Linked DNA regions of Homo sapiens. The protein of the gene in region 1 binds, or shares a complex with, the protein of each later gene. Each region holds a gene or a part of one and is shown on either strand. Other genes may lie near its edges. A codon is read from its position in the direction of its gene.

Region 1 (12,865 bases):
TGGCTGTACCTACATCATCACAGAATCTGAATTAGCAGCACCTATTTGGTAGTTTTATTAAGTAACCATAGGGAGAACACAGTATAATTACTATGCACAGTATACATACTAATGTCATATGTTCCTGATCCACAACTCAGTCCAAGAGGGAAGTGAAGGGAAGGCCCAGGAAACAGCTGTGCAGCAGGCAGAAAGAAGTCACTACACACTGATGCAGTAATTTTATTAAGTCACTTGCATACAGTCAGGCAAATGGACAGGATCATGGGTCCAAATTCCTCCTTTCCATTCCAGCCAAGCCCAGCTGTCCTGATTGGCAGTCTCGAGAAGAAGGGAAGAAACTTCTGGAATTATGCACCGTGAATGAAGAAAGTCAGGTGAGACTGCATCCTTTTTACAAAGGAAACATATAAGTTCTCACCAAACTAAGAAGACGTTGATCAGTTTCACAGATCCTTCTTTCTGTTCCTTCTTTCCCAGAGAAGATTACAAGCAAAAATGGTCTTACCAGACCATTTTTTGGCAAGTCTTACTTGCCTAAGACTTGGGTCTGTGACATCAGAAACAACAGCAGAGAGAAAGATGATGTCCATACTTTTGAAGCCCAGAAGAACTCTCAGTCCTTGTTCATTTTTATCTTGTTATAATTTGCAATAGTAAGAGATGGGGAGAGTTTGTCATCTGTTTTGGAGTTACAAGTCTCTGTTTCATATGAACTTGTGCTGTGGAATTATACCATTTGACCTGGTATTTGACTGAGTTCTATTTGCTGGAATGTTGCACTTTTCCCCTTCTAGAATTGATCATATACAAATGCATGTAATGTTTGGCTAGTTATTTTCTCATATTTTAGGAAAGCAAAACTTGGCACACAGCAATTTGTTTTGATAATCTCTCTATTTACGTTAGGATTAGGGTTGCTTATGGGGCTGCTGATTTTGTTGAACTATTATCATCATGTTAGATGATCATTTATGTTTCCTTCCAGAAAATTCTAATGACATTGCTCATTGGATGTGATTACTCATTCTCCTGAGAGTGTTAAATGGGTGTGAGCAGAGCTGCCATACAAGGAAGACTGTATTTACGTGGAGTATCTTGTAGGTGGGGTTGGGAAATTATTTCCCATGCAATGCCACATGGTTACACAAACACAGCACTCTTTCTTGAAGTCCAAAGGAGAATCCTCAAAGAATCTCTGAAGAAAATTTGACTCCACTGATTACCATCTGTTGGTGACACTCTGCTTCAATTATTCTTTGTTCTGAACTCCAAGGACTGTTTTAAGTTCTACAATGTCTGGCAGATTGAGGAACAAAGATAAGGGAGAACAAGCAGAAACTGGTCAGAGGTAAGAAAATTTATTTACAATTTTTGGCAAATCACCTGAAAAAGGCAGAAGAAGATCTTTTGCTGTGCTGTATTATTTTTGAGAATTTTACTGTATTTTCTTACTAAAAGTTTAACAGCAAGATATACAAATATCATCATCGACCCATTGAATTTTAGAAATATTTGGATATGTTCAGATTTGGTAGTAAAGGTGTCAAAATTTATCTGAGTTCTTTTGTCCACAAACTGGAAGACAACATTTTTATTAAACTGGATTTTAAATCAACATAGAATGCTAACTCTATGAGCTTTGAGGTGTGAAACAACTCAGAAAGGCAAACTTTCAGGGAAGATATTGATCCCGAATCCCCACCTCCATCTTCTCTTTATTTTAAAAGTATTTCACATGTCTTGTTGAGGGAGATTTTACCTTCAGATTGAAATTCATGATATTGCTGCTAAGTATAAAAAGGACAACATGCCAGGAGGATGTTTTCCTTAACAACACTATCTCAGTCAATATTAAAAGGCAGGTCCTGATAAAATAATTTAAAGATAGTTTCCTAAGAGCTTCAATAAATTCAGTTTGTTAAATACTTTATAACTTTTCTTCTATAATAAATGAAGGTGGTAATACTATTAATAAATTTCACCTAAGAATAGTAATAAGAGGTTGTGCAGAGTTAGTCTAGGAAATGCCTGACTTGGATACATGTTAGCTACAACTCATGAGATGCTTGCCTCAAAAAATTCATTTCTAAGTTAATTGTTTGGAACTCAAAATCTTCATATACATTGGTGAGGCTTATGAGTCTAGTCGAGTTAATTTATACTGAACCTGAAGCATTATTAATAGTATTATTATTTTTAAAAATACCATTCTAGAGTTTACAATAGTGTTTATTATTTCGCATTCAGAAGGGAAAGGAGCTGTCAACTTTAGTAGTCCTGGGTATCAGTAACTCTTCACTTTTGTTTAAGGCATATTACTACAAGGATTCAATGAATAAGTGGTTGGGGTTGGGAAGCCAGGAGTTACCTTTCTAATTGTCATAGTACACTGGAAATCAGGGCAGTTGGCTCACTAAAAGCCCTGAACTTGGGTTTCTCTACACCATTAATATATAGGGATATATAAGTTGGGGACTTTTTGGACCTGGTTTGAGGAAAGTGGACCTTATTAGGTGGATTAAAAAGTTGCAATTAGTCCATTTTACATGACACTATAGTCAGAACCAAGTAATTATCCATTATAGTCTGATCAAAACTTGCATGAAAATCAACTAAAAATTCAGAATTAAGTATTTTTAAAAGCTTGCAATGCATTGAAGAGCAGGCAATCAAGTGAGAATACTTAGGGGTGGAGGATGGGGGACAAATAAAAGTAGCTACAAGAGCCACCTCTCTCTGTAATCCCAGCACTTTGGGAGGCCGAGGTGGGTGGATCACGAGGTCAAGAGATGGAGACCGTCCTGACCAACATGGTGAAACCCTGCCTCTACTAAAAATACAAAAATTAGCTAGGCGTGATGGCAGGTGCCTGTAGTTCCAGCTACTCGGGAGGCTGAGGCAGGAGAATTGCTTGAACCCAGGAGGTGGAGGTTGCAGTGAGCCAAGATCACGCCACTGCACTCCAGCCTGGCGACAGAGCGAGACTCCATCTCAAAAAAAAAAAAAAAAAGAAAAGCCACCTTTCATCTTCATCTTTAGGGTTTTTCCTAAGCTGGATGAACTGGAAGACCATGAACTGTTATCATGGTCTTATGGGTCTTCAGACCCTTCCTAATGTGGGAAATCCAACAGGATACTCTTCATAAAGCTGATACACCCCAAAGGTATTCAAGGACAATTGTCTCAAACAATGGAGCATAGTTAAGGGGAAAAAAGCTTCCCAGAGGATTCATAGCTACAAACCAGGTCTCACATGAATGGTCTGAAGAATTTCAAGCTGAGAATTTAGTGTTTATGTTTCTGAATTGCTAGTGATCCCAAGCATCTACCAGCAGTAAATTAATATCTTCTCCAGAGAACTCATTTTCATTTCAGCTGTCACTCAATTTCTATATATAAAGTTCTAAGGATCACATAACATAAAAAGAAATCACATACATAGAAGAAATCAAGAGACCATAAGTATGAACAAGTAGAAAAAAGATCAGTTAGTAGAAGCAGACCCACAAATGCTTCAGATATTGGAATTTTTAGAAATAGAATTTAAAGTATATATATTAAATATTTTTAATAAATTAAAGAGATGCTGAAAATATGAGTTAAGAGAATACAGATTTGGAAAATAACCAAACAGAACTTTAGAAATAAAAATAATATAAATTAAAAACTAAATGGGTGACTTTGACAGAAAATGAGACAAAGCTGAAGAAAGAATTAGTGAACAGAATATTTTTGAAATTTTCCAGAATACAGCGTAGACAGATAAAGAGAGACATACTATAAAAGAGATGTTTGACAAACATGGAGGGTAGAATAACACATGTGTTATCAGAGTCCCAGAAGGAATGGAAAGAAAGGAGTCCAGAATTTTCCAGAACTGATGAAAGTCACCAATCCAGAGTCAAGAAAATTAAAGAAACCAAGAAACATGGATGAATAAAAATCTACACCTAGATACTTCACAGTGAAACTATAGAAAACTAAAGACAAAAATGAAACATCATAAATGCAGTCAGAGAGAAAAAACAGATGACATTTTAAGATTACTTTCAAAGTTCCAATTGTTATTAGGGAACTTAGAAGACAGTGTAATGATATTGATAACATGCAGAAAGAAATAATAGTAAACTTTGAATTCTTCATCAGTGAAAATATTTTTCAAGAGTGAGGGATAAATAAATACATTCCAACTCAAACAAAAAGGGAAAGAATTTTAGGCAGAAGGAAAGTGATCCTACACAGAAGATCTAAAATGAAAATACAAAAGAATGGTAAAGTTCTGAGTAAATCTAAACAAACATGGACTGTATAAAACAACATTCATAATGCATTTTTGGGGGGATTTTAGTTTTGAGGGGGTTTTAGAGGTTCTTGTATTGTTTGAGAGAGGGTGGATATCCTTGTGAACTCTGGCTTTAATCAGTTAAAATGTACCTATTAAAATTTCTAGGATAACTCCTAAATGAATAGAAACAGAGTAAATAACTTCCAAACTAGAAGAGGTGGGGGCAGAAATGAAAGCATAAATAGTAATCCTAAAGAATGCAAAAGTGAAAGAAAAAAACAGATCAGAAGAAACAAACGGGAAGTACAAAATTAGATGGCAGAAATAGATTTAAATTTATCAGCATTTTTCTCTCTTTTTTTTTTTTAATTTTTTTTAGACAGTGTCTCACTCTGTCAACCAGGCTGCAATGCAGCGGCATGATCTTGGCTCACTGCAACCTCTGCCTCCCAGGTTCAAGTGATTCTGAAGCCTCAGCCTCCTTATTATCTGGGACTACAGGCTTGCACCACCCACCACACCCAGCTAATTTTTGTATTTTTAGCAGACAGGGTTTCACCAAGTTGGCCAGGCTGGTCTTGAACTCCTGGCCTCAACTAATCTACCCGCCTTAGCCTCCCAAAGTGATGGGATGACAGGCATGAGCCACTGCGCCCAGCCTAAATTTATCAACAGTTTTAATACATGCAAATTGTCTAGGGGTTTGATGTAAGAGCTAAAGATGATCAGACTAGATTAAAAATCAAGACTAAAAATTTTAGATAAATTTGAAACATGATGGTTTAGAAAGTTTGAATGTAAAAGGATGAAAAGAGATATCCTAACATCAGACAAATACTATTCAGAAGAAAACTGTTTAGAATCTAAGGCAAAAGTACGATTGGAGGTAAAGAAAGTAACAACATAATGATGAATGGTTGTATTTATTAGGTAGATATAGAAATTATAAACTGATGTGTATATTATTACACAGCCCCAAACTGTGTAAGGTAGAACCTGAAAGAACTATAGGCTGAAATAGAAAAATCTACCATCATGTTGGGATATTTAAACTCATCTCTCCCATTAATTGAATTATGTCAAGCAGATGCAAATTCAGTAATAGAAGATGTCAACAACACAATCATCGTATTTGATCATGGACATATATTTAGAACACTGTACCCCAAAGCTGCAGAATATATATTCTTTACAAACCACATACAACATTTAAGTCTTGAAACATTTAAAAAATTAACTAAATTAATTAATTAATAAGAAATTAATTAATAAATAAAGACCATGTTCTTTGACAACAATACAGACTATGTTCTTTGACTGGTATGGTCCTGAAAACTGTTAATATTAATTGTCGAGTAGGAAATATCATTGCTGAAATATGATCTTGGGAAGATTTAAGACTAATTTGAAGGTTTGCCCTTTGTACACTTCTCTATCAGTCATATGGGAAGTTCTATATGAAATGAGTATTACTAAAGTTATACCATCGATTTCATTAAAGCTATTACCAAGGTAAGTGTATGATATTTGTTTTCTAATTTTTTAACACCTCATGCATGTAGATCATGTACACCTATGTTCCTATCCCTTTTATTTCAGTAATAACAGAACAGATAAATCTCTTCATTATGGTCAGCCTAAAAGCTCACTTAAAAAGATTTGCTTTGGGATGCGAATGTGTAGTATTTCCCTCGATGTACTTAACATAAATGGAATGAAGAACAATTTTATACTGTTCAAGGGTATGACTGTCATTTAAAATAAAATCCCAACAATGGATGAGGAAAACAATTGTATTATTATCTCCTCACACCAAATTAAAAAGTCCTCAATATGGTCACCCCAAGTAGGGTTCCTTTCTTTGGAAATAATTAATTATAATGAAAGGAGAAGTTTGAGAAATTCAGTAACAGTTGGGGCAGAAGTGGCTTTTAGCTTACGAATTTTTTTTTTCAAGGCTTTGGAGTATGGTCACTTATGCAGAAAAATCTTTATTTGGGAAAAGAAAACTTATGTAGTATAGTTTGCCTAATTGTGAAACTGAAATTCACAGAATAATTTCTCAAAAGATAATACAAATTTGTAGCACCTGTTTTACTTGAACATCACACTGCTCATGTGATGTACAAGTAATAATTCCCATTTTACAAATGTAGGAACCGAGAAACTGAAGTGTCTCACCCCGAGTCAAGCTATGACAACACTTTATGATAAACACATTTTTTTTTTGTTTGTTTGTTTCCCAGTTATGGCCCGTCCTCATTTTTTACTAACAGGCCCATGGCTATACAATATTTCTGATCCTGTTGACCAAGTAGTACCCAATTTTGGCAAGAAAGTTTAAGGTTATATAACTGAGTGCAACTTCAGGTTCTCTGACTCTTGAGTTTTTTAATTCTTAAGACTCCTTTTCTGACTTTTATGTCTTATGACTCACACTACATTCATACCACATTTGGTTTCCTCTCATCATCTTAACTTCTGCATGAATAAAGTCTGAAGTAACCACCTTTTGGAAGAAACACTGTGGCTATGTGTCAAGGGTGGCAGTGTTAGCTGGGAGAAGGCCTTTCCCAGAAGATCTCTGTGTAAGAGCCTGGCCTTCCACAGTCATTTGAATGTCCATCATAAGACTTTTCTACCTGTCTTCTCAGTAGATCCTAAATATGAGACAGCAGAGGAGGGAGACAGGCAATATGAGGTAGAAGTAAATAATCAGCATCAGATAGACCTGGTGTGAACTCCAGCTTTGCCATTACTCCCTGGTTTCTTCATCTGTAAAATGCTGATGAAAGTATCTATCACACACCTATGACAAGTACTGGGTGAGAGTGCACATAACCTGCTTCACATGTGCTTTAGGGCTGTGTAAATCAGTCCCTCCCACGCTTATTCAGTGGTGCCCTCTCTGAACTCGCCTAAACTGCCAGACTATGAGGCCTGCGACTATGTACATGTGTTCAAAAGTTAGTCCTTGGTTATCACTGCAGTCTGTGGTATAGGAATGTCTGCCTCCCACATGCGCAGACAAGTGGGGCACTACCATTTGGCTACTTGACAGGGCTATTTAGCAGGTGCACATGTCTGAACATTCCTGAATCAGGAGGGGGTAGCTCTGGATTTCAGAGAGCTGTAAGCAGGCCACAGCTGGAGTGACGCAAGAGCCAGGGGCATCAACTTGAGCTCTGAATTTGTAGTATGAAATGAAAGGAACCCAAGTCCGTGTGTATGTGTGTGGAAAACACTGCAGGTCGAGGTACTTTTCCAGGTACTTCGCCCTTTGTGGGGTTGCAGCCCCGACGCCCTGGAATCTGGACTGGACCCAGAAAGGAAGCCGGTTTGGTTCATGCTGAGGACACAGGGGGCACCTTGCCTTTCTGGCTAGGTGGCAAAGCGGTACGTGGGCCATCCCAGCAGGCACTAGCGCTCCCCCTGCACCCTCTGGCCGCCCGGGCGCGGGGACCTGGCCCCCGCCTCCTCCACAGTCTCCGACTTGCGAGCCGCACGGCCCAGGTGAAGCCGCTGGGCGCGTCCCCGCGCGCCCCTTCCCCCTCCCGGCGACTTCCTGATTTGCAAGAAGGTGCAGGAGCCGCAGCGGGCGGCCCCGGTCGCAGGAACTGAGAGGCCTCAGCTTTGGTGGCGGCTACCGGCGGAGACGGGGGCGGCGGCCACGCCACCGCTGCTGTCACAGAAAGGCTCTGGTGGGTGGGGTGGGAGGCGGGGAAGTGCCGGGGGCGCAGCCGACATGGGCCCGCCGCCACGGCTGCTGTGAGCAGCCTCTTTCCCTGTGTGGCCGCCGGCGTGGGCGGGGACGGCGCGACCCTCGCGCGGCCGGGCTGCGGGCTTCCAGGCCAGCGCGCGGGGGCCGGACGGACAGCCCCACACCGACATGTAACCATGGACTGCAGGACCAAGTGAGTGGGGGGGCCCGGGCGCGTCGGGGGCGGGCGTCCCTCGGCGGCCCCTCCCAGGCCAGCTCGGCTCCTCCGCGCCTCCGCGCTCAACCGGCTCCCCGGGCGGCCGAGGTTGGCCGGGCGGGCTGGGGGTGCGGTCCGGCCCCCAAGCCTCTGGCCGGCCGGCGGGACGGCGCTAGGCCGCAAAGCCTGCCCGCCCTGCGTCCCCGGCCCTCCGTGGTTGGCGCGGCTCCTCCCGGAGAGGCCACTAGCGCCTTGTCGACGCCCGCCTTTCGGGGGACAGGGGAGGCCGGGCGGCCCCTGACACCGCCGCTGAGGGGTTCTCGTGCTTCCCCCGAGTGTGTCAGATGTGACTCTCCTGGGGCTGCCTGTGTGCGTGTGGTGTCCGGGAGGGAGTCAGCGTTGAGGTTAAGAGGTTATTATTCCGAGTGCTCTCTGAGCATTAAATATAACCGGTGTTTTCTTAAGTCCGTTTGTTACTTTTGTCTTGGATGTTTTCTTATGATTCTGCTTATAAAATTAGATTGGTCTCTGGTGTTTCTTTATGCAGCAACTGTAGATGCATGGTTCTTGCAAAACGGTATCCAATTAGAGGGTACTTTTATGTGTGTGCTAAAGTATTTATCAACGACTACTTTGCTCAGGAGATTAGGTAAAAAGCAATTTTAATAACGGTGGTGATTTTGTTTCTAGGTATCTTAGAGGCATGAGTTTTATATTTTTCTTCTGAAACTTAACTTTGGAAAGAATTCCTTTTTACTTCGCTTACCCACCCTTTACTATCTCCTTCTCAAAAAGTTTAAAATAATGCCATGTATATTTGTATTATTGTGAAAGGCCGTTTGAATTTCACAGAAGTAAAACTGAGTCAATATTTAACTTTTACACCTAAGAGAAATTCTAAAGAATATTAGGGAAAGAGGGAAATTATGTAATAGAATTATTTTCTTCAGTGTGTTTGACATCATGGTGGGCAGGGTAAGTGAGTAAAAATAGTATGCTTCTTGACATTAATTGTTTTAAGAGGGAGGAAGTCATCTGAGCCCAGATTATTCCCATTGAAACAAGTTAATAGCGGAAAGGCTAAAAAAATGTATATTTGCATGTTAATTTATATGTCTTGTCACTTCCTATGTTTCCAGATTCATATCTTATAAGAAAAGCTTCCAAAAAAAGAAATGCTTTTTTTTAAAGTCAGAGCTGGCATTCGTTTCTTGAAGGAAGTACATATTAAATACAGCCAATGTACAAAGGCACTAAGGTCTTGTTAGCAGGAATAACTGAGATATTAACACATTGGCCGTTGTGGTAACAGACTTAATCTTTTACCTTATGATGGAACGAGAGATTTAAACAGCAATGTTATGAAGAAAAAGTGTCTCAGTATATTTCAGTTCACTTTTTGAAATTTAACCAATGTTGCTTTGAAATTTTGCAAATATGGCAAGTTAGTAAAAAAGTCAATAACTTCTGAATTAAGCAAAGTAAACTTACAGTTTCTAGTGGGAAAATCTAACATGGAAGCAGATGGCTGGTTTCTCCAAAGATAATGGATAAAAAGAAGGCTTTTTATGTTGCTAGCCTTAGAGCTATGAATAGTTTGCTACTTTAAATATGCATAAGTACAGTAAATACATTTTAAGAAAAGTATATGCAACGTATCACATTCATGGAGCATTATCAATGTTTTATGGTGATCTAGAACTTGGCAGGTGGAACCATGTATTCATCATTTACACTTATATTGCAAGTCCTTTGGAGACAGCCTGAGAACCTGTGTCAAACTCTGTTGGCAGGGTATAATGACACTTAGGGACACTCTGGCTTTTAAATTTGATCCAATAAGATAAAACCAATACTTTGCATTTTTGTAGCACTTAGTACTTAATGAAGTACTTGCACATATGTTATTTGATTTATAATCCTCACTATTATTCTGTGAAGTGGACAAGGCACCTCATAGGTAAGGGAGAACAGTCTCAGCGTTTAAATGCTTTGCCCCAAGTTTCAGAATTCCTAAGTCTCAGCTCTTTTAAGTTGCTCAATTGAGAAAACAGTTTCATTGTTATTTCTACTATACTGTAGTAATACAGTCACGTGAAATGTATTGAGACAAAAACAAGATTAGTTTTAGAATTAAGAAAATACAAGTTTCATGGAGATGTTTATTTGTCATAGGAAATTAATTTAAACTTTTTCCTTTTAGGGCAAATCCAGACAGAACCTTTGACTTGGTGTTGAAAGTGAAATGTCATGCCTCTGAAAATGAAGGTATGTGTCTTCTGTGTTCTGTTATTTGACAAGGTCTCTTTTTTTTGGGACAAGATCTCATTCTGTTCCTCAGGCTGTGCAGTGGCATGATCAGGGCTCACCACAACCTCTCCTTCCCGGGTTCAGGTGATCCTCCCACCTCAGCCTCCCGAGTAGCTGGAGCTACCAATGCACACCACCATGCTCAGCTAATTTTTGTATATTTTTTTGTGGAGACAGGGTTCACCACGTTGCCCAGGCTGGTCTTGAACTCCTGGGCTCAAGTGATCCACCCACCTTGCCCTCCCAAATTGTTGGGATTACAGGCGTGAGCCACTGTGCCTGGCCTGTTCTGTTAATTCTTAAAATAATTGATTGAATCTGTCAAAGCAAGTGTTAATATTGTGGACTGCTGGAACATGGTAGTAATAGGAAAATAATACTACTAAATGTGTATTCTGCATTGAGTGTCTCAAGTTGCTGGTAATAAAATAGGTGTTAAGTCTTTGCCCTGGGATTGTAAAAATCATGAATGTTATCAGTGCAGCTTGAATTTCAGGTGTGTTGTTAAGCCCATATAACTTACAACTCAGCTTCACCATTCGTTGGTAAAGTTATCATTAGTTTTGGTGAAAGGGCGAATCTTTTCATTTTCTTTCATTTATGTTTGGAAATTTAGTGTCTTTTTTTAAACATTAGTGCACATTCTCCTGCTAGTACCAATGGAAACTACACCACTTCCCTTCTGATGTTTCCAGAACGCAGAATGCAGACTGAGTAGCCCCTTCTGTTGGATTTACTCCAATAGCACAGCACTTTTGCAGGGAGGTAAACGATAGTGTGAAATTACTTGGAAGGGTTTCAGCTGTCAGTTCCGTACAATTTCCTGAAAAGATGAGAGCATAATACTTTAATGTCATGATTTTCATCATTTCCCTCCACTTTTGTCATATTGTGTATTGTGCATATGTGTGGTAGGCGGCAGGGTTAGCAGACAAGAATAAGGAATTCTTTTCTTGCCTATTTTCTTTTAATGTGTTCTTGCATGGTATGTCTTTCTAGATACTTAAAGTATATGTCTTTACTTGCTGTGTGCTTAGACCCTGGATAGCATGATGATTAAGCATAGGGGTTTCGTGGAGACTGATTGGCCATCCTAAAGCCTTGGAGGAAAGTCTGCTGACAATTTTAGCTTCAGAAACTATCCAGCAATTACCTACTCTTAAGTAATTTGGAGCTGCACACCTTAAAATAGAGAAGCCCAACCCAGTTGTGGTGAAATGGGCATGGCTAATTTTAGTATGAAGTCACATATTGTTGGCTCCACCAGCCCTACTACTGTACTCCTGGTCTATCTGAACTGCAGCTGTGGTCAGGTTTGTCTATTGGCAAGGAGTGATCCTAGGTTGTAGGGAGCCTTTTCTAGTTGATGAAGTTATCTTTTATTGTCCTGTATGTAGTAAAGTTTGTCCATTTGCATTATTTTGAGCCCCAACCGGGTCCTCTTTGAAGAATGGATATATTAGGTAGAATGGATACTCAAATGGATACATTATGTTTTCAGCTCCAATTTAATTCTATTCTATAGTGGTTTATGATATAAGTTAATCTAAAAAATATCTACCACAACATTACCGAAGGTGCGTGAAGTAACGCTCATCTGATATTGCTTGTAAAGGCGTGGCACGGTGGCTCACGCCTATAATCCCAGCACTTTTGGAGGCCGAGGTGGACAGATCATCTGAGGCCAGGAGTTCGAGACCAGCCTGACCAATATGGTGAAACCCCATCTCTACTAAAAATACCAAAATTATGCAGGCATGGTGGCCTATGCCTGTGATCCCAGCTACTGGGGAGGCTGAGGCACGAGAATCAGTTGAACTGGGGTTGTGGAGGTTGCAGTGCGCCGAGATAGCACCACCACACTCCAGCCTTGGTGACCAAGTGAGACTCTGTCTCAAAAAAAAAAAAAAATCTATATAGATATATAGATATATTTATAGATACATATATTTATAGATATATATTTATAGATATATATTTATATATATTTATAGATATATATTTACATATATATTTATATATATATTTATAGATATATATTTATATATTTATAGATATATATTTATATATATTTATAGATATATATATTTATATATATTTATAGATATATATTTATATATTTATAGATATATATTTATAGATATGTATATTTATAGATATATATTTATAGATATATATTTATAGATATATATTTTTATATATATTTATAGATATATATACACACACACACACACAACAGGCTAATTTCACTTGGAAAATATGGATTCTCTAATTTTAAATGTGTATTAAAGTGATCTTGTTAAAAGATCAATTTGCCTTATATAACACCCAATCTATGCATGTGTCAGAG
Region 2 (11,849 bases), on another chromosome or scaffold:
CTTGGCCTCTCCAGGTCCCCATACTGTCCCCAGGCGTCTCGGCAGAGCAGTTAAAAGCCACTAGGCTGGCCAGGCGCAGTGGCTCACACCCGTAATCCCAGCACTTTGGGAGGCCGAGGTGGGCAGATCACGAGGTCAAGAGATCGAGACCATCCTGGCCAACATGATGAACACCCCACCTCTAGTAAAAATACAAAAATTAGCCGGGCGTGGTGGTGCGTGCCTGTAATCCCAGCTACTCGGGAGGCTGAGGCAGGAGAATCGCCTGAACCCAGGAGGCGGAGGTTGCAGCGAACTGAGATCGTGTCACTGCACTCCAGCCTGGGCGACAGAGCGAGACTCCATCTCAAAAAAAAAAAGCCACTAGGCTGCAGAAAGACCACAACCATCACCACATTATCTGCTGCTTTGGACCTGACACCAACCTCTGACACTGCTCTCCCTTTGAGAGGAACAGAAACCCACCCCAAGAAACACTACCTCCTAAATATCCCTGGAAGAGGCTTCCTCGGAAACACAAGCTGCAGCCATTACCCCACACCATCAGTGTCAGGGCAGGAGCAGAGGGCACCCACCAACCTTCACCACAGCCACCCCCGAGGCTGCCCAAGGGCACATCAGCATGACCCCAACCAGTCCAGCCTGTCATTCTTTTTTTTTTTTTTTTAAATGGAGTCTCACTCTGTCGCCCAGGCTGGAGTACGGTGGCGCGATCTTGGCTGCAACCTCCACCTCCCAGATTCAAGCGATTCTCTTGCCTCAGCCTCCGGAGTAGCTGGGATTACAGGCGCCCGCCATCACGCCCAGCTAATTTTTTGTATTGTTTGTAGGGACAGGGTTTCACCACATTGGCCAAGCTGGTCTCGAGCTCCTGACCTCAAGTGATCCGCCTGCCTCGGCCTCCCAAAGTGCTGGGATTATAGGAGTGAGCTACTGCTCCCGGCCTTTTACCCCTGGCTGCTGTATCTGGTCCTCACCACGCAAGCCACACACATGTCTTCCCTTCCTCCTGCTCCTGCCTGGGCTATGGCCCCCTCACTCCTCTCTGCTTCAGTTCAACCTCTTGAAGAGCCCTGACCTTTCAGTGAACTGTTCTCGATATTTTTTTTTTTTTTTGAAACAGGATCTTGCTCTGTTGCTCAGGCTAAAGTGCAGCAGCGTGATCATAGCTCATTGCAGTCTCAACCTCCCAGACTCAAGAGATCCTCCCACCTCAGCCTCCCAAGTAGCTGAGACCACAGGCGTGCACCACCATGCCCTGCTAATTTTCTTCTTTTTGTTGAGACAGGGCCTCCCTATGTTGCCCAGGCTGGTCTCAAACTCTTGGGCTCAAGTGATCCTCCACCTCGGCCTCCCAAAGTGCTGGGATTACAGGTGTGAGCTACCGTGCCTGGACCTTTTTTTTTTTTTGAGACAGTGTCTCATTCTGTCACCCAGGCTGGAGTGCAGTTGTGTGATCCTAACTCCCTGTAACTTTGAACTCCTGGGTTAAAACAATCTTCCTGTCTCAGCCTCCCACATAGCTGGGACTATAGATGTGCACCACCACGCCCAACTGATTTTTTTTTTTTTTTTGAGATGAAGTCTCGCTCTTGTCCCCCAGGCTGGAGTACAGTGGCACGATCTCGGCTCACTGCAACATCCGCCTCCTGGGTTCAAATGATTCTCCTGCCTCAGCCTCCCGAGTAGCTGGGATTACAGGTGCGTACCACCACACCCAACTAATTTTTTGTGTTTTAAGTAGGGACAGGGTTTCACCATGTTGGCCAGGCTGGTCTCGAATTCCTGACCTCAGGTGATCTGCCCACCTCGGCCTCCCAAAGTGCTGGGATTACAGGTGTGAGCCACTGTGCCCGGCCTTTTTTTTTTTTTTTTTTTAAGAGATGGGGTCTCGCTATCACTATGTTGCTCTCACTATGGTCTCGAGTTCAAGTGTTCCTCCCGCCTCATCCTCCCAAAGCACTAGGACAAACTACTGCCCCCAGCCATGTTCTCAATTTTAAACCTGCCTCAGCCACCACCTCACTGTATAACCTCACACAAGTCACGCCCCCTCTCTGAGCCTCAATTTACTCATCTGTCAAGTGAAGGGCTAACTCCATCTCCAAATGAGGATGGCTGGCCTGAGGGATGCAGACGACATGCTGTTACAAATCAAAGCCAGTGTCAGAGAGTATAAGGGAAAGTATAGAAAATACAGAACTGGCCGGGCGCGGTGGCTCACGCCTGTAATCCCAGCACTTTGGGAGGCCGAGGCGGGCGGATCACGAGGTCAGGAGATAGAGACCATACTGGCTAAAATGGTGAAACCCTGTCTCTACTAAAAATACAAAAGATTAGCCGGGCATGGTGGTGGGCACCTGTAGTCCCACCTACTCGGGAGGCTGAGGCAGGAGAATGGCGTGAACCGGGGAGGTGGAGCCGGCAGTGAGCCGAGATCGCGCCACTGCACTCCAGCCTGGGCGACAGAGCGAGACTCCGTCTCAAAAAAAAAAAAAAGGAAAAAAAGAAAATATAGAACCTCCGGCATAACGAAGGGATGCAGAGATTGAGGGAATCCATTGCAGAAGCATCCACAATGTGCAGAGTGGGCAGAACTCTAGATTTATGAAGAAAGAAACCAGCATTCATGGAGGGCCTATTGTTTGCCAGCCCTGACATGAGCTGCTCGCACACGTATTAGCACTGAGATGCAGTGGCTCCCGGCTTTGCCCCTGCTGAGCTATGTGATTTGGGGCAAGTAAGTCACCTCCTCTGAGCCTCAGTTTCCTTTTTTTTAAGACGGAGTTTCATTCTTGTCGCCCAGGCTGGAGTGCAATAGTGCGATCTTGGTTCACTGCAACTTCCGCCTACCAGGTTCAAGCGATTCTCCTGCCTCAGTCTCCCAAGTAGCTGGGATTACAGGCACATTCCACCATGCCCGGCTACTTTTGTATTTTTAGTAGAGACGAGGTTTCATCATGTTGCCCAAGTTGGTCTCAAACTCCTGTCTTCAGGTGATCTGCCCGCCTTGGCCTCCCAAAGTGATGGGATTACAGGCGTGAGCCACCGCGCCCGGCCTTAAGCCTTAGTTTCCTTATTTGACAAATCACACAGGGGGCGGGTGAGAATAAGCGTCTGTGAAATCGTTCAACATATCTTAAGGAGGCATTCACACAAGGAGCCCAGTTCAGGGGAGTGTGTAATGTCAGTCTCTGGGCTCAGCTGCCAAAGCTTAGTCTGGACTTCCATGGCTACCATCTCCCAGCTTTGAGGATCTCAATGTCGGGAGAAATCAAAGAGCACAGCATCCATCTCCTCTGCACAACCTACGCCTACATGGCTGACCTAGGAGCTAGACCACATAAATCTCGACCCAATGAGTCTTCTCCCACACCTGACTTCGGAGAGAAAAATCAATTCATCACACAAAATGTACTGTGAGAAAGCGGGCCAAACCCATCCCCTGGGCTTTACAGAGGAGAAGAGCCAACAAGCTGCATCTTCCTGCTGAGTTTAGGCTTTTCACTGTTGGATATCAACGCAGAGGTCCAGATGTCTTGCAGAGGGATAAAGGCTCCTGACCACGGCGGGCTGTCACTCCAAAAAGAGAGAAATGGCCCCAGTGCCAGTCCCTCAGAACCCAGGCCAGGGCTGCAAGGAAATCATGTAAAGGAAGAAGCCTCAAGACCCTGAAGAATACCAAAGGCCATCTCCAAGAGAACACTCCAGAGCTTGCCTGGTTTCCCTTCATTCAAACCATAACCAGTCAGTACTCCACCTTTCTACCTCCTTCCCCAACCTCAGTTACTCTTCCATCTCCCTGGTTAGCCCCCAGCTTTCCCCCTTACCTCTCCCCTCCTCCAGCAACCACGGAAACCTCAGCCATCCTTCACCTGATCCAAACCACCAACCACATCTCCATCCAGCTTTAAAAGGGAGGCCAAAACCACCCACTTCCCTGACCTAGCTCTGACATCGCTACCCAACACTCCTACATCCCAAGTCATACCGCTCACTTGATTTGATCCCCTTTCCTTAACAGTCCATGGGCTCTACCACCAGCCTGGCCTCTGCCTCCAATCATAAGACATCCCTCCCCACACTCAGCTCAGGTCTGGTCTACAAACTGAGCATGCTCCCAAGACTCTTTCATGAACATCATATAACCCCAGCACCTCAGTTTCGCTCCCATAAACCTTCTGGGGCCTGCCTTCCTGACCTCTTGGTCACTCCATAAACCTGCTCACCTGCCACACTCCAAACAGCTCTAAAACCCTCCACCTTTTCCCAGAAACCAGTCTACCTTTTCGAAGGACACTTAATATTCATTAATTCCTTCTGCAAATATGTCTTAAGCATGTACTGGGTGCCAGGCACTGTTCTAGGCACTGGAGCTAGAGCAGTGATCAGAGCTAGGAGCCCTCAAGCAGTGTGTGTGTGTGGCCAAAGCACTTTTATAATTTTGGCTGTCCCATCCCCAGGACCCCTCTGTATATAGTAGTGTAACAGCAAACAGTGACAACTCACTATGTGCCAGGAGCTGTGAGCAACACTGCAGAATCTCACTTAATACTCACATCAACCCCATAAGGCAGATCCAACTATCATTCCATCTTACAGATGAGGAAACTGAACCACGCAGGGATATAATAATTCAGCAGGAATATGCCAGACCCTGTGCAAAGCCCTTTATCCGACTTACCTCATTTAAACCTCACGGCAATCCCATGAGGCAGGTTCTGAGAACGTCCTCATTTTAGATGGGAAGAAACTGACGCTTATAAAGGATACTGATGATAATGACAATAGTGAACATTTACTTCGAGCTTACTTTACCGGGTAGGGCGCTACGCACTTTTCCTACTTTATCCCATCGAATCCTCACACCACCCAGCAAGGCACATCCCCACTTCTCAGATGAGGGAACTGAGGCTCAGGACGGCGAAGCAACTTGCCCAAGGTCAGCGCGAGGCAGGTGGTAGTCCTGAGACTCGAACCCACGTCTCTCCAACTCCAGAGATCGCGCGACTTGACCAAGGTCACACGTGAGGCAGGAACAGGCGCGATGACTGGACCCGGCGCGCTTGGCCCCTCCGCCCCGCGCCCCAACCTCCCCTCGGCGCGGTCCGGAGCCCCTCGGCGCACCCCTGGGGCCCAGACCGCCGGGCTGCCCCGCCCGCCCGCCCCGCACGGGCCGGCACCTCCCCGCCCGCCTGCCGCCCCGAGGCCCCCGCGGGCCGCGCCCGGCAGGGCCCGCGCCGCCTCCGGCCGCTGCGGCCCTCACCGCTGTCGCCGATGATGAGCAGCTTGAAGAGGTGGTCGTAGTCCCGGGCCATGGCGGGCGGGGGCGGTGCGCGCGGGCGGGCGGGGTCGGTACTGGCCTCGCGATCCGCAGCTCCCTTCGGGCTGCTCCGGCAGCGGCGGATCCACTTCCCGAACAAACAGCCGGAACTGACAGAAACACCTCCCTCCGCTCCCCCTCCTCCTCCTCAGCAGCCGCCGCCGCTACCACCGCCTCCCTCCTTCCCGCCCCGCCCCACCACTGCGCAGGCGCAGCGTCTGGCACCGCCTTGCGCAGCCGCAGCCTGAGCCGGCCGCGCCCGGGTCGCGCACGCGCCCTGACGGAGTCCCAGCAAGCGCGGGCCCGTCTTCCTCGCGTCTCCTCGGGGAGCGTCGTCGCCGCCACCCTGGGCGCTGAGAGCTTGCGGAGCCGAGCCGCTGTCGAGTCCCAGCGGAAAGAAGCCCAAGGTGCCGGAGAAGCCCGGTCGTGGACGTTGTTGCTCCCTCATCTTCGAGACCCGCACGCCCTGCGGAGAGGAAATGACAGGCACGCCGCGACCGTGGGGCGGGGCTCGCACGAGCTCCGGGTTTCCAGAGGCAGGGGCCGGGGCCGTAGAAGGCAGAGTCGCGCGGGGAAGGCCCGGTACCCCGCCCCTTCCGCACCGACCCCTCCCCCGCGGAGCTGGCCCCGGCCCCGGGCCTGTGGAGTGGACGCCGAGGGCGGCGGGCGGCTTCCGAGTTGGACAGAACGGGAGCTGCCGGCGGGAGCAGAGCTGCGAGGAGGTGGCCTTTGAGGGCAGCGCGGGGTCGAAATCCCATCCCAGCGCTGTGACCTCTTGGAGCCCACATTGCCTCTTTGGTGGAGGGGAGGGAGTGGTCCAGCTCCGAGCCGAGCCTGGGAGCTGAATGACCCAGTGTGCAAGGCGCACCTCGGAGACCGAAAGCAACCGCTCCCCCGGCTTCAATTTCACACCACCTGCAGATACACGTCTCAGAATCTGCGGCTAGGAAGACCTGGGCCGCCAGAAGCTAAACGTGTGCATTTTGTCATCAGCCCCGGTTTCTCGTTTTAGAGTGAGTTCCCACCTGCCCTACCTAAACTGACCTGAAACGGAAAGTTGTATGCCCCCACGACCATCCTCACTGCAGAACTGCAGAGGGTTTTAAGCTCCTTATTACCTGTTTCTTATAATCCTGTCCCTTTCCAGGCGAGTATTTATCGGATAGTTCTACTTGTTTTATCAAACTTCCTTTTCTTTTGACTTTATAAAAAGCAATGCCGGGAGGCTGAGGCGGGAGAATCGCTTGAACCCGGGAGGCGGAGGTTGCAGTGAGCTGAGATCTCGCCATTGCACTCCATTCTGGGCAACAAGAGCGAAACTCCGTCTCAAAAAAAAAAAACAATGTTCGTCCTTAAAATTATGTGCAGAAGTTTACTGAAAAGTACAAGTTACTATTTTTCCTTCTGAAGCACTCCTCACAGGTAACCCCTGTTAGTTTCACAGGTAACCTTAAAATGCTTAACACATATTTGTTGAATGAATAAGTGCCCCCCAGTGAATTTCCTTTGCCTGTACAAACATATATGTACATACCTTGCTTTTTCTATTTAACAGTACACTTTTATCATTTAACATCTGCGTGGTATGGTACTCCATCCGATAACCATCGGATGTACTATTATTTAACCACTCCGCTATTAATAGACATTCATGCTGTTTATATTTTTTGGTTATAATAAACATTGTTGCAGGCGGGATCATTGAACAACACATGGAGTGTCTGACTCAAGCCTTGAGTTGTTTTTCCGGGAGCTGAGAATCAGTGTGGTGATATCGAAATAACATGAGCTTGGAATCTGAAGGTACTGGCTAGGGAGAAGAGCTGCTCATGTGCTCCCGATAGAAAGTCCCCCTTGGTCGGGAAGGTTAGGGCCATCCTCTGACTCAGCAGTTTTAGGAAATAGAGGGGGAGAAGGAAGGTATGTACCTTCCTTCCACCAGGGAGGCACGCCCAGCCCTAACCAGCCAGCGAGGCAGTAGGTCCTCCTAGCTCATCTTCACAACCTGGGCTGGTGTCGGGAAGACTTTCGTTCCAATGCTAGCTTTGGAATCCTGGCCTCCATCCCTTAAAAGCTTTGTGATCTTAGGTAAGTCACATCACACTATCTCAAAGCCCCCGTTTCCTCACAGAATGGTTGTTTTAGAGTTATGTTTGTAAATTACCTGGCACATGTAGGCATGTGACAGACTGTAACCAATGTTACTCAAGGTCATTTTGCACTGATTCATACTTTGAGCCATTTCCTACTGTAGACTCTAGCACACATTTTCAAGGCAGCTTCCTGATAATAAGGCTGTAGGATATTTTTGGGAAATAAATCCAAATTGGCCATTAAAACCAGATTCCTGACTTTGCCTGCATGTGTCATCTGGAAAGCAATCGGCATAAATTCCTTCATTTCTTTGGTAACTATTTAATGAGTGTTTATGTGCCACGGATTGCAGAGGTTATAAGAAGAGAGCCTTAGGCCGGGCGCTGTGGCTCACACCCATAATCCCAGCACTTTGGGAGGCTGAGGCGGGAGGATCACGAGGTCAGGAGTTCAAGACCAGCCTGGCCAAGATGGTGAAACCCCATCTCTACTAAAAATAAAAAAAATTAGCCGGGCACGATGGCAGGCGCCGGTAATCCCAGCTACTCGGGAGGCTAAGGCAGGAGAATCGCTTGAACCCGGGTGGCAGAGGTTGCCGAGATTGCACCACTGCACTCCAGCCTAGGCGACAGAGCAAGACTCCGTCTTAAAAAAAAAAAAAAAAAAAAAGGAACAGAGCCTTTTCTCACCAGTTCACAGCCTCATCAAGAGTTAAGACATACTCATGAGGAAATTGAAAGTATAAGACAATACAGTAGATAGAAAAGCTGTCAGATATGCAGTCTAGACTTCAGAGGAGGAAAGCTATAGCTTTTAGTTAGAATGATGGGGAGAAGATTTTATCATAAAGATGTCATGATGGCACTGGAATAGGAGAGCTTTGAGTGTCTATTTAGACAGTCCCTGTCACAGTCTATGAGAATCATCATTTGGCTTGGAGGGGAATTCCCTGCAGGCCAGGGTATGTGCCTGGCATCTCAAAATGAATCAGCACATTTTCTTCTGGAAACATTGTTAGACATTTATTTAAACTACAGTTCAGTGATGAGTTATGTTAAGCTTTCTTTCTCCTTCTCACTGTATACATATGTAAACTTGTGTGACCTAAAGGATCAGTGTGTCCAGTAATGGGAAACTTTGTTCCACTGCTCTGAACAGCTAACTTACAGATGAACTTTTGCAACACCACCTGTTTGCACATTAGAAACTATTAATACGATGAGGAGGCATTGAAAGTTTTTGAGCAAAGAGGCAATCTCAAAATATTTTAGTGAAGTAATCTGGCAGGGTGCAGGATGGATTTCAGCTGCAGAGCTTTAAAGGTTATTGCTGAAGCCTGGGTGTAAGGTAACAGCAGGGACAGATGCAAAAGACAATAAGCAAACTTATAAACTAGACAAAGCAGCTTCCAAAAAAAAAAATCACGTAATTTACCTGGTAACTGGATTCATCCTTAATTCAGTAAATATTAAGTGGCCGGGTGCAGTGGCTCACGCCTGTAATCCCAGCACTTTGGGAGGCCGAGGCGGGTGGATCATGAGGTCAGAAGATCAAGACCATCCTGGCTAACATGGTGAAACCCCATCTCTACTAAAAATACAAAAGAATTAGCTGGGTGTGGTGGCACACGCCCGTAGTCCCAGCTACTCGGGAGGCTGAGGCAGGAGAATCACTTGAACCTGGGAGGTGGAGGTTGCAGTGAGCCAAGATCGCATCATTGCACTCCAGCCTGGGTGACAGAGCGAGACTCCATCTCAAAAAAAAAAAAAAAAAAAAATTTGCACAGTTACTAGGTGTTAGGCACTGTAGTGGGCACAGAGGCTAGAACATGAACAAAACAAAGCTCCTGTCCTCACGGAGTTTACAGTTTAGTGGGGAACAAGTCATTCACTCATTCAACAAATACTTGAGGGCCTACTATGCCAGACATTGATCTACGAGCTGAGGATTCAGCAGTAAGTAAAATTTTAAAATCCCAGCTTTCATAGAGCTTATATTCTGATAGAGAATACAGGCACCAAGTATGTCCAAGGAGAAAAGTAAAGCAGGGAGCACGCTGAGGTTTGCAGAAGCAGGCAGTGGAGCCACAGAGGTGGCAGGAAGTTTGGCAGTGGATGACAAGAGAAACAATGCTTGGTGGTGAGAGCAGTGGGGCTCATGAAGTATTTTTCAGGATAGTGGAAGCAGAGGATTAGCAGCCAGGAAATAATAAGGAGTGAATATTTGGAGGGAAGATGAGCTAAGGGCGCTTCAAAGAGCTTTGGGAAGTAAAGTGTCACCAACCAGAAGGCTAAGTGGGTAAAGGAGAGGGGGACCTCAGGCCCTCAAGGGTAGCAGTGTCAGGGATGAAGATCAGTGCAGTGGAGGTTGGAGGGACCTGTGAAATCCATTATTTCAGACAGCAACATGGACTTCAAAGCTGCTGAGTGCTAGGTAGCAAGGGAGGGAACGTGTGCTGTGATCATCCAGGAAGGAAGCAGTGGGTGGTGAATCAGAACTCAGAGAAGGCAGGTAAACTGACCGACAGGGACTTTAAATTAGGAGCAAGATGGGGACCACTCAGCATACTGGTCCAAGAGGGAAGGAAGAGAGGATATGATATGATGCCTGGTGTCTCCCTCTGATGGAAGTGGAAACGGGCCCTTTCTCCCACACCTGCAAGCCTGATGCCACACCAAGAGACTTGGCAGTGGGCCTTGCCCTGCCCTGATGTAGCCCCCAGAAATCAAGTGAATGTAAGTTCCATGATTCCAGGGACCATCTCTTTATCTGTATCCTCTGGAGACCCAGTGCCTGGTAGGTGCTTGATACCTGTTGAATTAAAGTGAAGCCACACACACAGTGTGAGAGTTGGACAGAATGTCAGATACAATTAGTTGAACCCTCTCTTGAGTTCACTTTTTGGGGTGTGGGCCAAACTTGGGGTCTAACTCAGGGTCAGCTTCTTCCCCTGACTCCAAACCGTTTAGCAGGAATTTTCTCACTCAACCTTTATATTATTAAATCAGTGGTTTTGCAAGTGTAGTCTGAGGACCCGCAGGGCTCCCTAAGACCTTTTCAAAGGATCTTCAGAGTCAAAACATGTTCACAATACTAAGATGTGATTTGCCTTTTTCACTTTCATTTGCTTATGACTGTACAGTGTTTGCCAGAGCCTACATGACATGTGATACAACAGACCAAATGCAGAGCTGACATGCGAATCCAGACATTAGAAACCTAAAAAAATGTGGAACAATGCCACTTGAACAGTTTTGCTTTGTTGTTGTTGTTTGTTTTTGAGACTGAGTCTCTCTCTTGCCCAAGCTGGGAGTGCAGTGGTACGATCATGGCTCACTGCAGCCTTGACCTCCTGGACTGAAGTGAACCTCCCACCTCAGCTTCCTGAGTAGCTGGGACTGCAGGTGTACACACCACCACACCACTATGCCTGGCTTTTTTTTTTTCTTTTGAGACAGAGTCTTGCTCTGTCACTCAGGTGGGAGCTGGAGTGCTGTGGCATGATCTCGGCTCACTGCATCCTCCACCTCCTGGGTTCAAGTAATTCTCCTGCCTCAGCCTCCCGAGTAGCTGGGATTACAGGTATATGCCACCATGCCCAGCTAATATTTATGTTGTTTAAGTAGAGACGGGGTTTTGCCATGTTGGTCAGGCTGGTCTCAAACTCCTGACCTCAGGTGATCTACCCACCTCAGCCTCTGAAAGTGCTGGGATTACAGGTGTGAGCCACTGCGTCTGGCTGCTATTTTTTTTTTTTTTAATTTTTAAATTTTTTGTAGAGACAACAGTCTCACTATGTTGCCCAAGCTGGTCTTGAACTCCTGGCCTCAAGCCATCCTCCCACCTCAGCCTCCCAAAGTGTTGGGATTACAGGCATGAGCCACTGTGCCTAGCCTGGTTTTGACTCCTAAGATGCTAAATATCAATAGGTAAGATAGGTATACACAAGAGCTCTTTGGTGTCCTCAAAAAAATTTCAAAATATAAAAGGATCCCGGCTGGGCACAGTGACAAACACCTGTAATCCCAGCACTTCGGAAGGCTGAGGAGGGAGGATGGCTCAAGGCCAGGAGTTCAAGACCAGCCTGGGCAACATAGTGAAACCCTCATCTCTACAAAAAAAATTTAAAAAATTAGCCAGGCTGGGCACGATGGCTCACACGTGTAATCCCAGCACTTTGGGAGGCCAAGGTAGGTGGATTACCTGAGGTCAGGGGTTCAAGACCAGCCTGACCGATATGGTGAAACCCCATCTCTACTAAAAATACAAAAAAAAAAAAAAATTAGCTGGGCATGGTGGCGGGCACCTGTAATCTCAGCTACTCTGGAGGCTGAGGCACAAGAATCACCTGAACCTGGGAGGCAGAGGCTGCGGTGAGCCAAGATCACGCCACTGCACTCCAGCCTGGGCGACAGAGTGAGATTCCATCTCA

What was found.
Region 2: the proteins of DENND1B (region 1) and RAB35 are in contact, whole or in part, in a crystal structure (PDB 3TW8), measured with the Homo sapiens proteins. Residues at the interface, in NP_001182144.1 of Homo sapiens: Met1 (codon at 8,186), Arg4 (codon at 8,195), Glu43, Ser47, Phe51, Val72, Leu73, Thr74, Asp75, Ile76, Glu77, Ser78, His211, Glu212, Arg213, Arg214, Gln242, His243, Ile244, Ile246, Leu249, His252, Leu253, Asp255, Tyr256, Cys258, Ala259, Pro260, Met261, Pro262; in NP_006852.1 of Homo sapiens: Lys10 (codon at 5,291), Leu12 (codon at 5,285), Ser17 (codon at 5,270), Ser36, Tyr37, Ile38, Thr39, Thr40, Ile41, Gly42, Val43, Asp44, Phe45, Gln60, Trp62, Thr64, Ala65, Gly66, Arg69, Phe70, Arg71, Thr72, Ile73, Thr74, Ser75, Thr76, Tyr77, Arg79, Gly80, Thr81.

Annotation. Positions count from the first base shown.
Region 1 is NC_000001.11:197,770,476-197,783,340, reverse strand, and holds the start of DENND1B (DENN domain-containing protein 1B), read left to right. Parts: upstream 1-7,860; 5' UTR 7,861-8,185; coding exon 8,186-8,202; intron 8,203-8,262; exon of another isoform or gene 8,263-8,693; coding exon of another isoform or gene 8,694-8,854; intron 8,855-10,408; coding exon 10,409-10,473; intron 10,474-12,865. UniProt on the Homo sapiens protein: Guanine nucleotide exchange factor (GEF) for RAB35 that acts as a regulator of T-cell receptor (TCR) internalization in TH2 cells. Acts by promoting the exchange of GDP to GTP, converting inactive GDP-bound RAB35 into its active GTP-bound form.
Region 2 is NC_000012.12:120,111,333-120,123,181, forward strand, and holds the start of RAB35 (ras-related protein Rab-35), read right to left. Parts: upstream 5,422-11,849; 5' UTR 5,319-5,421; coding exon 5,267-5,318; intron 1-5,266. UniProt on the Homo sapiens protein: The small GTPases Rab are key regulators of intracellular membrane trafficking, from the formation of transport vesicles to their fusion with membranes.